Homo sapiens: one gene and its partners. The protein of the gene in region 1 purifies or fractionates together with the protein of each later gene. This does not show direct contact. Each region holds a gene or a part of one and is shown in the gene's direction. Other genes may lie near its edges. The genes, in order: TSHR, MLF1 and PC.

Region 1 (3,653 bases):
CACTTTAGGGTCTACCAACATAATGGCCAGCTCCCTAAACAATTACCCTAAAGCAAAGTCTGCCAACAGAAAAGCACCCTCTTAAATACGAATGTGTGCAACCAGAGATCTCCAGTCAAAGAATGCTCCTAACATGGAAGATCAAAACCAAGATACACAAATGGCGGGGAAATGAGCCTGGAGAAATCAAAGAAATCACAGAAAAGAGAAAGGAACCTTTAACAAAGCAATAATTAAGGACCTGAGATAAATCTGAGAACACATTTCATCCCTATCACTATAACAATCATGATAATAATAATAAAAATAATAGCTAATATTTATTGAGAACACACTAAGAGCTACTGTTCAACAAACTCAAGACAAGGAAACTGCAGCACACAAAGTTTCAGTGACTGATAGTAAGCACAGAAGCCAGGGTTTAAGTCCAGATAGTGTGAATTTAAAACCCATGTTCCTAAACAAAGGGGTATGCTTTCTCAAATATGCTGGTTTTATTTCATTTTATTTTTTATTCTTTTTTATTTTTTATTTTTAGAAGGAGTTTCGCTCTTGTTGCCCAGGCTGGAGTGCAATGGTGCAATCTCGGCTCACCACGACCTCCACTTCCCGGGTTCAAGCGATTTTCTCCTGCCTCAGCCTCCCGAGTAGCTAGGATTACAGGCATGTGCCACCATGCCCGGCTAATTTTGAATTTTTAGTAGATACTGGTTTCTCCATGTTGGTCAGGCTGGTCTCAAACTCCCAACCTCAGGTGATCCACCCGCCTCAGCCTCCCAAAGTGCTGCGATTACAGATGTGAGCCACCGCACCCAACCAAATACGCTGTTTTTAAAAGGAACAGAACACAAGAAAGTGCTCTTAAAAAATCTATTCAGGTATTTAACAAGTATGTGTTTAGAGTCTTCTGTTGGCTAAACACCAGTCTAGGTACCAAAAATACGGCAATAAACAGAACAGGCAGTATTTCAGCTCTCATGAAGCTAAAATTAAAAATTTAGTAGAAGAGATGGAAGATGCACTCAAGGAATTTTACCAGGCAATTTAATAAAAGTAATAGGAGAAAATTCCAAGAAAAAATGGAGATATGTCTGATGGACCAGGAGGTGCCTTTTCCTCTTATTAAGAATTCCAGAGACAAAACAGATAAAATGAGAATAAGTTATCCCATAAACAATACAAGAAAATTTCCTAGCAGTGAAGAACAAAGGTCTTCAGATTGAAGGGGCCTGTCTTCCCCCAGTGCCCATTATAATAAATGGAAAAAGATTCCTATCAAGGTACACCTTCATGAAATGTCACACCAGGGATAAAGAGAAGGTCTGAGAAGCTTCCAGAAGTAATAACAAGTCAATGACCAAAGAATAAGAATTTGAATGGGGTCATACTTACCAAAAGCATCAATGGGTGCTAGAATATGATAAAGCCTTTAAAATTCTGAAGAAAGGCGATTTGCAACCTTAAATTTTATAGCCAGCTAAAGTACCAATTGAATATAAGGGTAGAAAAAAATAAGGTCATTTTCAGACATGCAAAGACTCAGAAAATATCTCCTTCACACAGCCTAAGAAATTACTTGAAAATGTGCTCTAGGAGAGAAAATCAAGAAAAAAGATGACACAAGATTCAGAAAGAGACTCCCACTGGGGAGAGGGGAAATAGTCTCCTAAGAAGCTTGAACTTCATTCTGTAGATATTAAAGGAGGCATGGATTTCAAGCTGGAAAGCAATATAAGATCTGTGTTTTAGAAAGGACATTCTTTCCTAAGTCTTTCCTAATGTCCTTTAGAAAAAACATTCTTTCCTAAGTTCCTAAAATCAGAATAGTGGAAGATTTCTGAGACCAGTCACAAAGTTTTTGCAAAACTCAGGTGAAATGTAGTTCAGACCTAAACTAAGGTGGTAGCAATGAGAACCATGAAATTGTAGATGTGCAACAGCTGGGCTCACATCTGATTGGGGTGGGGGGTTCTTAGCACAATTTCATGTTGTTGTAAATATTCACGGCATGAACGTAGGGCAAGGGCAAGAGAGACTCCACAAGGACATCGAAGCTTCAAGCCCTGGAAAGTGGTAGATGGAAGACAAGAAATAAAGACATTCCAGTAAGCTTCAAGGCAAGAATCATTCTATTTGAGATATTTTGAGTGGAGAGGCAGTGCTAGATCCATAGAGAAGTACAGAGGAGCTCCTACCTTTCTGTCTGATAGCAACCAGACTGTCTGATTAAAACTGCAGATCACTGCAAGGGTGGTTAAATCAAAAAAGAAAAAAGGCAGTTGTTCCCCCTGCTTGACCCTGAAAGTGCAGAGATAGTGTGGGTGGACTGCACAGGAACACTTAAGGTGCAGCATGCCTAATGGATACTTAGAACGATGACAAGTGAGGATTAAGATGTCTTCAAGTATAATAGATTCTAATTTTGTCTGTAAGTGGCCTTAGAGCTCTGAGATGAGACTACAGAGGTAGTCCAGTGCTAGATCTGCAAGACCTTAAAGGGCATGGTAGGAAGCGTGGATGTTATTCATGGTACGTTGAGAAGTCACTGTAGGCCTTTAGGCAGGAAAGTGACATTACTCAATTCATATGTTATGATTACTCTGGCTACTATGTGAGGAATGGATTGAAAAAGAATAAAAGTGGACAGGAAAGATATTTCAGTAAGAGATAATGTTAGCTTGGACTAGAAAGCTTACACTGGAGATGCAAATACGTGGATTTGAGATTCCTTTGGAGTTCAGAATCATAGGTGTTTTGCAAGATTAAATGTGGATGGGACAATGGTCTTGAGGAAATCCAACATTCCTCAAGGTTACTAATTTGAGCAATCAAGTGGATGAGAGTGTCAATTACCATGTTGGGGGGAAATAGAGGAGGAGCAGGTTGAGCTAAGGGCAAAGGATGAAAAGATAAGTTTTGAAAGGCCCTATTAAGTTGGAGACGCCTGTGAGGCATCCAGGTGGAGATATCAAATAAGCAGTTGGATATACAAGTTGAGGTCTGGACTGGAGCTGTATTTGCCAACTTCATTGCTTTTGGCTTCAGCTCAGATAAACTTCAAATTGGGACAAGGAGGAAATTAACAATTATTGAGCACCTACCATATGCCAAGCACCCACATTTCCCAACATCTACTTTCTCCTTGCCTGCCCAAGCACCCTCCCAGTTCAGCCCGAGTGGGACCTAACTTAGAGGCCACCTGGGATATGTCATTACATATACTCAGACAAACTTTGGAATCTTCCCTCCCAGATTCCTAATGAGTCCATGGAGACTTACTGCACCTGGATCTGTGTTCAAAGACTCCAAAGACCTGAAAGTGAAGACTAGCTCCTGGGACACTGAAGCTGAGAACTCCAGACCCAAATGATACTTATGACTCCACCCTTGGTTCACTGTATCTTTTTGGACACAACATCCCTTATTTCTTTGTCTGAATTTTAGTATCTGCCCGCTTCATAAAAATGCTTTGAGAATTGAAACCAGCTTCTGAATCACCTGGAGAGCATCTTAAATAATGCAGATTCCCAGCCTCCACAAACAGAGATTATAATTCATTTGGTCTGGAATGTGTCTCAATCTGTATTACAGGTGATTCTGATGCTGGTCCAGAGTGATCCCTGGACTAGAAATGCTGATTTGCAGAGTGATAA
Region 2 (3,653 bases), on another chromosome or scaffold:
GTCTTAGGTGTTCTCTCACACATGATGGCTTACTTCGGGGAAAGAGCTACCATGATGTAAAGCAGCACTGTGGAGAGGTCCACCTGAATGAGCTTAGAAGCAGATTTTTGAGACTAGCCAATAGCTGTGTGAAGGAACTTGGAAGTGGATTCTCCACCAGTCAAGACTTGAGATGACTAAAGCCTCAACTGATAACTTCATTGCAGCCTACAGAGAGGCCCTGAGTCAGAACTACCCACCTAAACTGCTCCTGATTCCTAATCAACAGAAATTGTGACATAACAAATGTTGTTTTAAGCTGCTAAGTTACAACAGCAATAGATAACTAATACATGTTATGTCAGAATAACACATTGATTGAGACCATCCTGGCTAACACGGTGAAACCCCGTCTCTACTAAGTACAAAAAATTAGCTGGGTGTGGTGGCTGGTGCCTGTAGTCCCAGCTACTCGGGGGGCTGAGGCAGGAGAATGGCGTGAACCCAGGAGGCGGAGCTTGCAGTGAGCCGAGATCGCGCCACTGCACTCCAGCCTGGGCAAGAGAGCGAGACTCCGTCTCAAAAAAAAAAAAAAAAAAAAAAAAGCAGAAAAAAACTGCCCTCATTCTAAGTCATCAGTTTTGTTGCTTTCATCTAAAGACAGGAAAATGAACTACAAATCTACAAAAAGTTTATACGTGTGTTTCTGCATCATAAAAAACAGATATTTATAGATATTCGCAAAATTTTGAGACCACATTCAGGATGGCCTCAATTAAGACATAAGCTTCTATGGCATAAACAAACCTCATTTGAGGATGTTGTTTCTCAGACATACAGGTGGTCTTACTCTGCAGCAGCTGAAACTGAAGCACAAGAAGCCCTTGGAACTATCATCAGGACATGTAAGTCCCATGTACTAAAATACTTGGGCCAGAGAAAACCAAGTATAGTTTAAATAGGAGTTTCCCCTCCCCTAAAATCCAAAGTCACTAAGGAGGAACTTCAAGACTGCAGGCATTGGTTGCAGTGGAGATTTTTCTCTGTGTAGCAAGCACCAAGGTGAGCAGAGCCTTTAATTAAGAATAGTTAGTAATTTTGCCAAGAAATGGTAGGGGGACCATCTGATATATAGGATGGTTCAAATTCCATAAACATTATTTATTTATTTATTTATTTTGAATTTTTGTATTTTTTTTTATTTTATTTTGAGACGGAGTCTCACCCTATTGCCTAGGCTGGAGTGCAATGGCATGATCTTGGCTCATCACAACCTCCACTTCCCGGGTTTAAGTGATTCTCCTGCCTCAGCCTCCAGAGTAGCTGGGATTACAGGCACCTACCACCACACCCAGCTAATTTTTGTACTTTTAGTAGAAACGGGGTTTCACCATGTTGGCCAGGCTCTTCTCAAGCTCTTGACTTCGTGATCCACCCACCTCGGCCTCCCAAAGTGCTGGGATTACAGGCATGAGCCACCGCGCCCAGCCCTCCATAAACATTTATAATGTATACTGTGTGTCAAGCACAGAGGTTGGTAATATGAATGAATAAAGATACAGTTCCTACTCTAGAAGAACTTATACTCTAAAAGAGGAGTGAGACTTTTGTATATTTTAAAATTAAAATTAAAAAACTTGTATTAGTTTCCTATTGCTTCTATAACAAATTACCACATATTTAGAGACTTAAAACAACAAATCATCTTATGGTGGAGATCAGAAGTCCAAAATGGGTTTCCCTGGGCTAAAATCAAGGTGTTGGCAGGGCTACATTCCTTCTGGAGTTTATGGGGGTGAATCTGTTTCCTTGTCTTTTCTAGCGTCTAGATACTGCTGTGTTCCTTGGCTTCTGGCCTCTTCCTCCATTTTTAAAGCCAGCAGTGTAGCATCTTCTGATTATGACACTACTATCTCCTTCTCATAAGGACCCTTGTGATTACATTGGGCCCACTGGGATAATCCAGGATAATCTTCCCATCTCAAAATCCTTATACACATTAGCAAAATGTGGTAAAAACTGAAGACCTAACAAAGATTCATGGTTGTGTGGCTGAATATATTCATGTTAAGAGAATGAAAAAGGCAAGTCCAAGACTGGGAAAAAATTTAAAACCTGTATCTGATAAAAGTCTGTGTCCAGAATATATAAAGAACTCTTATAACCTGATTTTTAAAAATGGGGGAAGTATTTGAAAAGACGGTTCTATCAAAGAACATACATGAATGACAAATAATACAAAATAAAACTACAATGAGATGTTATGACCCTACCACTCAAATGGCTACAGTTAAACATTGACTATCCTATATTTCACCAAGAATGCAGTGCAACTGGAACTCTCAGTTACAGTTTTCATAAAATTTACATACTCTTCTAATACAAGCCATCAGTCCTTGCTCTGAGGTGTTTACTTAAGTCAAATTATGTATACACAAAGACTAGTACATAAATATTCATAGTAGCTTTATTCATAATAGCCAAAAACTAAAAACAGTTTTGTGATTATGATACTGATATATGTATGAACTTAGCAATAAAACTGAATGAACTGAAATAGAGAACAACATGGATGAATCAAAGAAGCATTATGCTAAGGGAAAGAAGCTAGACACAAAAGATGACATACTATGTGATTCCATTATATGAAATCTGGAGAAGACCAAACTATAATGACAGAAAGCCTATTCATGGTAACTAGGGCTAGGAGCAGGTAATTATCTGCAAAGAGACGAGGAAGCTTTTTGGAATGATAGAAATGTTCTACATCTTAATTATGGTGGAGGTTATGACTGCACTTTTTAAAATTCATCAAACTGTACAACAAAATTGGTAAATTTCGTTGAATGTAAATTATGCCTAAACAAGGCTGAATGAAAACATCTGTCTATACATACAAGCACAAATCCAGTTAAGCAGTTTGCTAATCTTAAACTCACACTTGGAACAATTATGCTTTTTTTAACCTCCAAGGTAATGTGTGAATAAATCTGAGCTCTTTTGGAATAGGTTTATGTATACAAATACTATGAAATTCAGAGGAAAAGCTCTTTCTACTTGGACTTATGAGCAGAAGACAGAATTTTTGAGCTTCCTCCTTTGAGCTTCCTCCTTTGAGCTGGAGTTGCAAGGAAAATTTCTTTTTTTTTTTTTTTTTTGAGACAGAGTCTGGCTCTGTCACCCCGTCTGGAGTGCAATGGTGCAATCTTGGCTCACTGCAACTTCTGCCTCCCGGGTTCAAGCAATTCTCCTGCCTCAGCCTCCGGAGTAGCTGGGATTATAGGCGTACGTCACCACACCCGGCTAATTTTTGTATTTTTAGTAGAGATGGGGTTTTACCATGTTGGCCAGGCTGGTCTTGAACTCCCGACCTCAAGCAATCCACCTGACTCAGCCTCCCAAAGTGCGGGGATTACAGGCATGAGGCACCACGCCTGGCCAAGAAAAAATTTTAAAAACTTTCTAGCTTCTTTATGATGACATCAGAGGATTGGAATTAGAAGGGGGAAGGGTGACCTAAGAAGAATAACTGAAGTGGAGAATCTGAAAGGAGGCCAGACTATTGGAGAGGGAGTTCCACTGGGCTGCAGGAAAGCATAAGATTGCCTTGGTAAAGTGAGCTCCAATCATGGTGTACCTTAAGTTCTAGAACGAGGAATAAGGAATTGATTAGT
Region 3 (3,653 bases), on another chromosome or scaffold:
AAGCCCGCTGCAGCCTGGCTGACTCGGTTCCCTGTGCCAGTCCTCACCTCCAAGATCTCCCCTAGAAGGTTGTCCCTGGTAGCCCACAGTAGGTCCCCCAGGCCCTTTTCCCTTTTTTGTCCTGCTCCTTGCTTTCACCCGGTCTCACTTCCAGTGCCCCAGGCACTGTGATAGGTACCTGTCCTCCCACCACCACTCATGGGGGCTCTGGGACCAGTGGCAGGGCAGGACCTCAGATTCACTACTCTTATCCCAAGCCACAGTTCCCTGTGTCCCTCTTCCCTCTGTCCTCTCAGTACCTAATAGTGCCAGGAACAAGTAGGTGCCTAATGAGTGTTTTGGGTGAATTAGTTGAAAAGGGGTCAAACTGGGAACCAGTGAGGAGAGAAGGGTGCAAGATGGGGAATACGGAAAGGAGTTACTTTTGGAGGTGGCAGGGATGGCCAGCACCAAGGTCAGTATGGCAGTAAATCTGGCAATCCACATTTCTCACTGGCACCTTCTGCATGGGCTGGAGGCCTCGTTCAGGTCAACGTTTTCTGTGTTTTTTTTTTTTTGGAGACGGAGTCTTGTTTTGTTGCCCAGGCTGCAGTACAGTGGCACCATCTTGGCTCACTGCAGCCTCTGCCTCCCGGATTCAAGTGATTCTCCTGCCTCAGCCTCCTGAGTAGCTGGGATTACAGGCACCAACCCTTTGCCTGGCTAATTTTTGTATCTTTAGTAGAGATGGGGTTTCACTATGTTGGGCAGGCTGGTCTCGAACTCCTGACTTCAGGTGATCACCTGCCTTGGCCTCCCAAAGTGCTGGGATTACAGGCGTGAGCCACTGCACCCGGCCTCTGGTCAACATTTTCATTGAGGATGAGCATGGCCTTCTCTTTGGCTGCCTCCCAATATCGTCCTGCCCCCATCTGAATGGGCCCCGTTTCTTGTATCCTGAAAGTTCCTGCTTTGGGGCAGGTTTCTCACCCAGAGGCCTCCTTCACAGCAGCAGGGCATTTTGCCTGCTCACTCTGAAACCTCACCTGGGCCTGACTGACCGTGCCTTCCTCTCTTTCTCTTAGCTGCCTTCTAGTCTCACCTGTGGACACTTTGCCAAAGGAGTCGGGCCTGACGGTGGAAGATGGGAAATGGCCAAAAGAATAAACCATTTCCTCTTACTTACCGAATGAAAAGCTTGCTTCATCTTGGCGTTCAAGACTCTCTAATATGATTCCACCTGTTGGGCTCTTTCTTCCATTTGCCTCCGCAGGTACCCTCTTCTGTGTCAGCCCCCATAGTGAGATTAGTCACTGTTACCCCAAACTCACTTCTCACGGTCCCCCCTCTGCTCTTGTTCTTGTTGACTTTGTTTTCTGCAGGGCCTTGCTTCTTATCTTGTCCTGTCAAAATTAAATTATTCTTCGAGACACAGGACTTTATTAAGGCTTGCCAAATCTATTCAGTTGGACTGGGCTCTCTTTTCATAACGATGATGATAAGTAATGATTTATTGTTATTAATAATAAAAGTCAACTACTGTGTGGTGGTGACGGCCTTGCTAAGCCCCTTACATACACATAATGTGATTATCACAACAATCCTATTACGAAGGTCCTATTAGATCCATCTCTTACAAATGACGGACTCTCATAGGTGAAACTCAGAGAGGTGAAATAACGCCCAGAGTAACACAGCCAGGCAGGCTAGGTGGCTCACTGCTGGAGTCCCTCTCACGTGCCATCCCATTTTTGCTTCTTTTAACCAGCCCCTAACAACTTGCTTTTTGGCACTTTGTGGGCAGGGCCTGAGTGTACATACAGTTCCTTGTGCAAGGCATGTGCTCAATAAATATTTTATTGACTTGAGTGCCCCAGACATTGAATTTCAGCCTTGACGTTATCTGTCAAGGCAGCTGGTTTTCTCTGAACAGGGATTTGAGCTTGCTGGCCTGTTTTTCCATTTTGCTGTTCATTGACTAGTGGCTAGGGTAGGTGTGGCTTTTTCGGAAATAAGCAGTCAATAAAACTCCGAAAAGTGATTACACAATACCAACTGTGGGCTCCCATGGGCATAAACACGAGGTGGGCTCTTACTTATGGCAGAGAGGGGTCTCTGCAGGAAAGGATTTGAGGAAATAGCCAGGAAATAGAGTACACATCTCAGGTCACGTAAGACAGCTCCTTATTAGTTTCAAGTTGTGGAGTGAGAGAAGAACCAGACTCCCAGTATTCAGAGGGAGCTCCTGAAGGATTAGAGACAGCTCTGCGGAGATGCAGAGAAAGCGGGCCTGAGGCTGGACGGAGTGGGCAGGAAGAGAAAGCACTTCAGATAAAACGAACTGTTTCTAGAACTTCTTGTTCATGTGTAGTGGGTGGCAGAAAAGGGTTTTACTTAAGCGCTTCCCACCTAGCCTGTCGGTTAACGTCCCAGTGTGTCCTCTGTGCCAGGCATGGTGCCACTGCTGTGCGTGTGCTGCCTCATTGGGTATTCCCTAGTACGCTGTGAGATGGGCATTGTTATTATTCCCATTTTACAGATGAGGAAACAGACTTTGAGTGATTACAGAGCGGCTGTCAGAGTAACAAGAGGTGCAGTCCAGGCAGTGGGACAGCACAGCTGGCGCTTCCAGCTCTGTACCCTCCTGGTGCCCTCAGTGGAAGCAAAGAAACAGTTCTTGGCCGGGTGCGGTGGCTCACACCTGTAATCCCAGCACTTTGGGAGGCCGAGGTGGGTGGATCACCTGAGGTCGGGAGTTCGAGACCAGCCTGACCAACATGGAGAAACCCCCATCTCTACTAAAAATACCAAATTAGCTGGGCGTGGTGGCACATGCCTGTAATCCCAACTACCTCAGGAGGCTGAGGCAGGAGAATCGCTTGAATCCGGGAAGCAGAGGTTGCAGTGAGCCGGGATTGCGCCATTGCACTCCAGCCCGGGTAACAAGACTGAAAAAGTTCTCTGGGTTCTAAAATCGGTGTTCTTGCCACTCCTGTTTTCTCTGGGAAGTTCCTGGAGCAATGAGGGTAATGCTGTTTTTTCTTTTGCTTTAGATAGTGTCTGCCTTCTGGAGAGCTGACCAAACACTAAGGGTAAGTCCTGTGCCTGAATCCAGGCTGGCGGGATGCATGGGGGTCTTCACCAGGAGCAGCTGTGGATGCCAGCAGTTTGGCATGTCAGGTCTTAAGCTCAATCAATAAAAAAAGGCTGCGCTCTGATTTGTGGATAATATCCGTTTAAGCAGTCTTGTCTGTTTCCAGTTGCTCCTGATTTTTACAGGAAAGTGACATCTGGCTCCCTGCTGGCCCCATTTGGCAGCTGGCCAGCCTCAGCAGAAGGCCCTGGTTCTGGAAGGGTATGGTCAGCTTGGGAAGCTGGGCAGGAAGAATCCCTGGGGCTGGGCCGTCTCTGAGAAGACCCCTTGAGTCAGCATGGAGAGCAGGCAGCTGTGGTGTGAGGTGGTTCTGCCAGCTGGTTGTAAAGTCACTTGACACGGGTTTCCAGAGGGTGACGCTCAACCTTTGCCAGTCACGGTAACAACGGGGAAAAAGGGACCTGCCCTTCTTCCCCTGCACATTTTACAGGCATGTGCCACCACACCTGGCTAAGTTTTTTTTTTTCTTTTTTTTTTTTGAGACGGAGTCTTGCTCTGTTGCCAGGCTGGAGTGCAGTGG

What was found.
Region 2: the proteins of TSHR (region 1) and MLF1 purify together in Homo sapiens (affinity purification with mass spectrometry; 2 studies listed by BioGRID and IntAct, with this or other methods). This does not show direct contact.
Region 3: the proteins of TSHR (region 1) and PC purify together in Homo sapiens (affinity purification with mass spectrometry; 2 studies listed by BioGRID and IntAct, with this or other methods). This does not show direct contact.

What each region holds. Positions count from the first base shown.
Region 1 is NC_000014.9:81,133,618-81,137,270, forward strand, and holds part of TSHR (thyrotropin receptor isoform 1 precursor), read left to right. Parts: intron 1-3,653. UniProt on the Homo sapiens protein: Receptor for the thyroid-stimulating hormone (TSH) or thyrotropin. Also acts as a receptor for the heterodimeric glycoprotein hormone (GPHA2:GPHB5) or thyrostimulin. The activity of this receptor is mediated by G proteins which activate adenylate cyclase.
Region 2 is NC_000003.12:158,588,041-158,591,693, forward strand, and holds part of MLF1 (myeloid leukemia factor 1), read left to right. Parts: intron 1-811; coding exon of another isoform or gene 812-884; intron 885-3,653. UniProt on the Homo sapiens protein: Involved in lineage commitment of primary hemopoietic progenitors by restricting erythroid formation and enhancing myeloid formation.
Region 3 is NC_000011.10:66,951,848-66,955,500, reverse strand, and holds part of PC (pyruvate carboxylase, mitochondrial precursor), read left to right. Parts: intron 1-1,064; 5' UTR 1,065-1,252; intron 1,253-3,032; 5' UTR 3,033-3,071; intron 3,072-3,653. UniProt on the Homo sapiens protein: Pyruvate carboxylase catalyzes a 2-step reaction, involving the ATP-dependent carboxylation of the covalently attached biotin in the first step and the transfer of the carboxyl group to pyruvate in the second.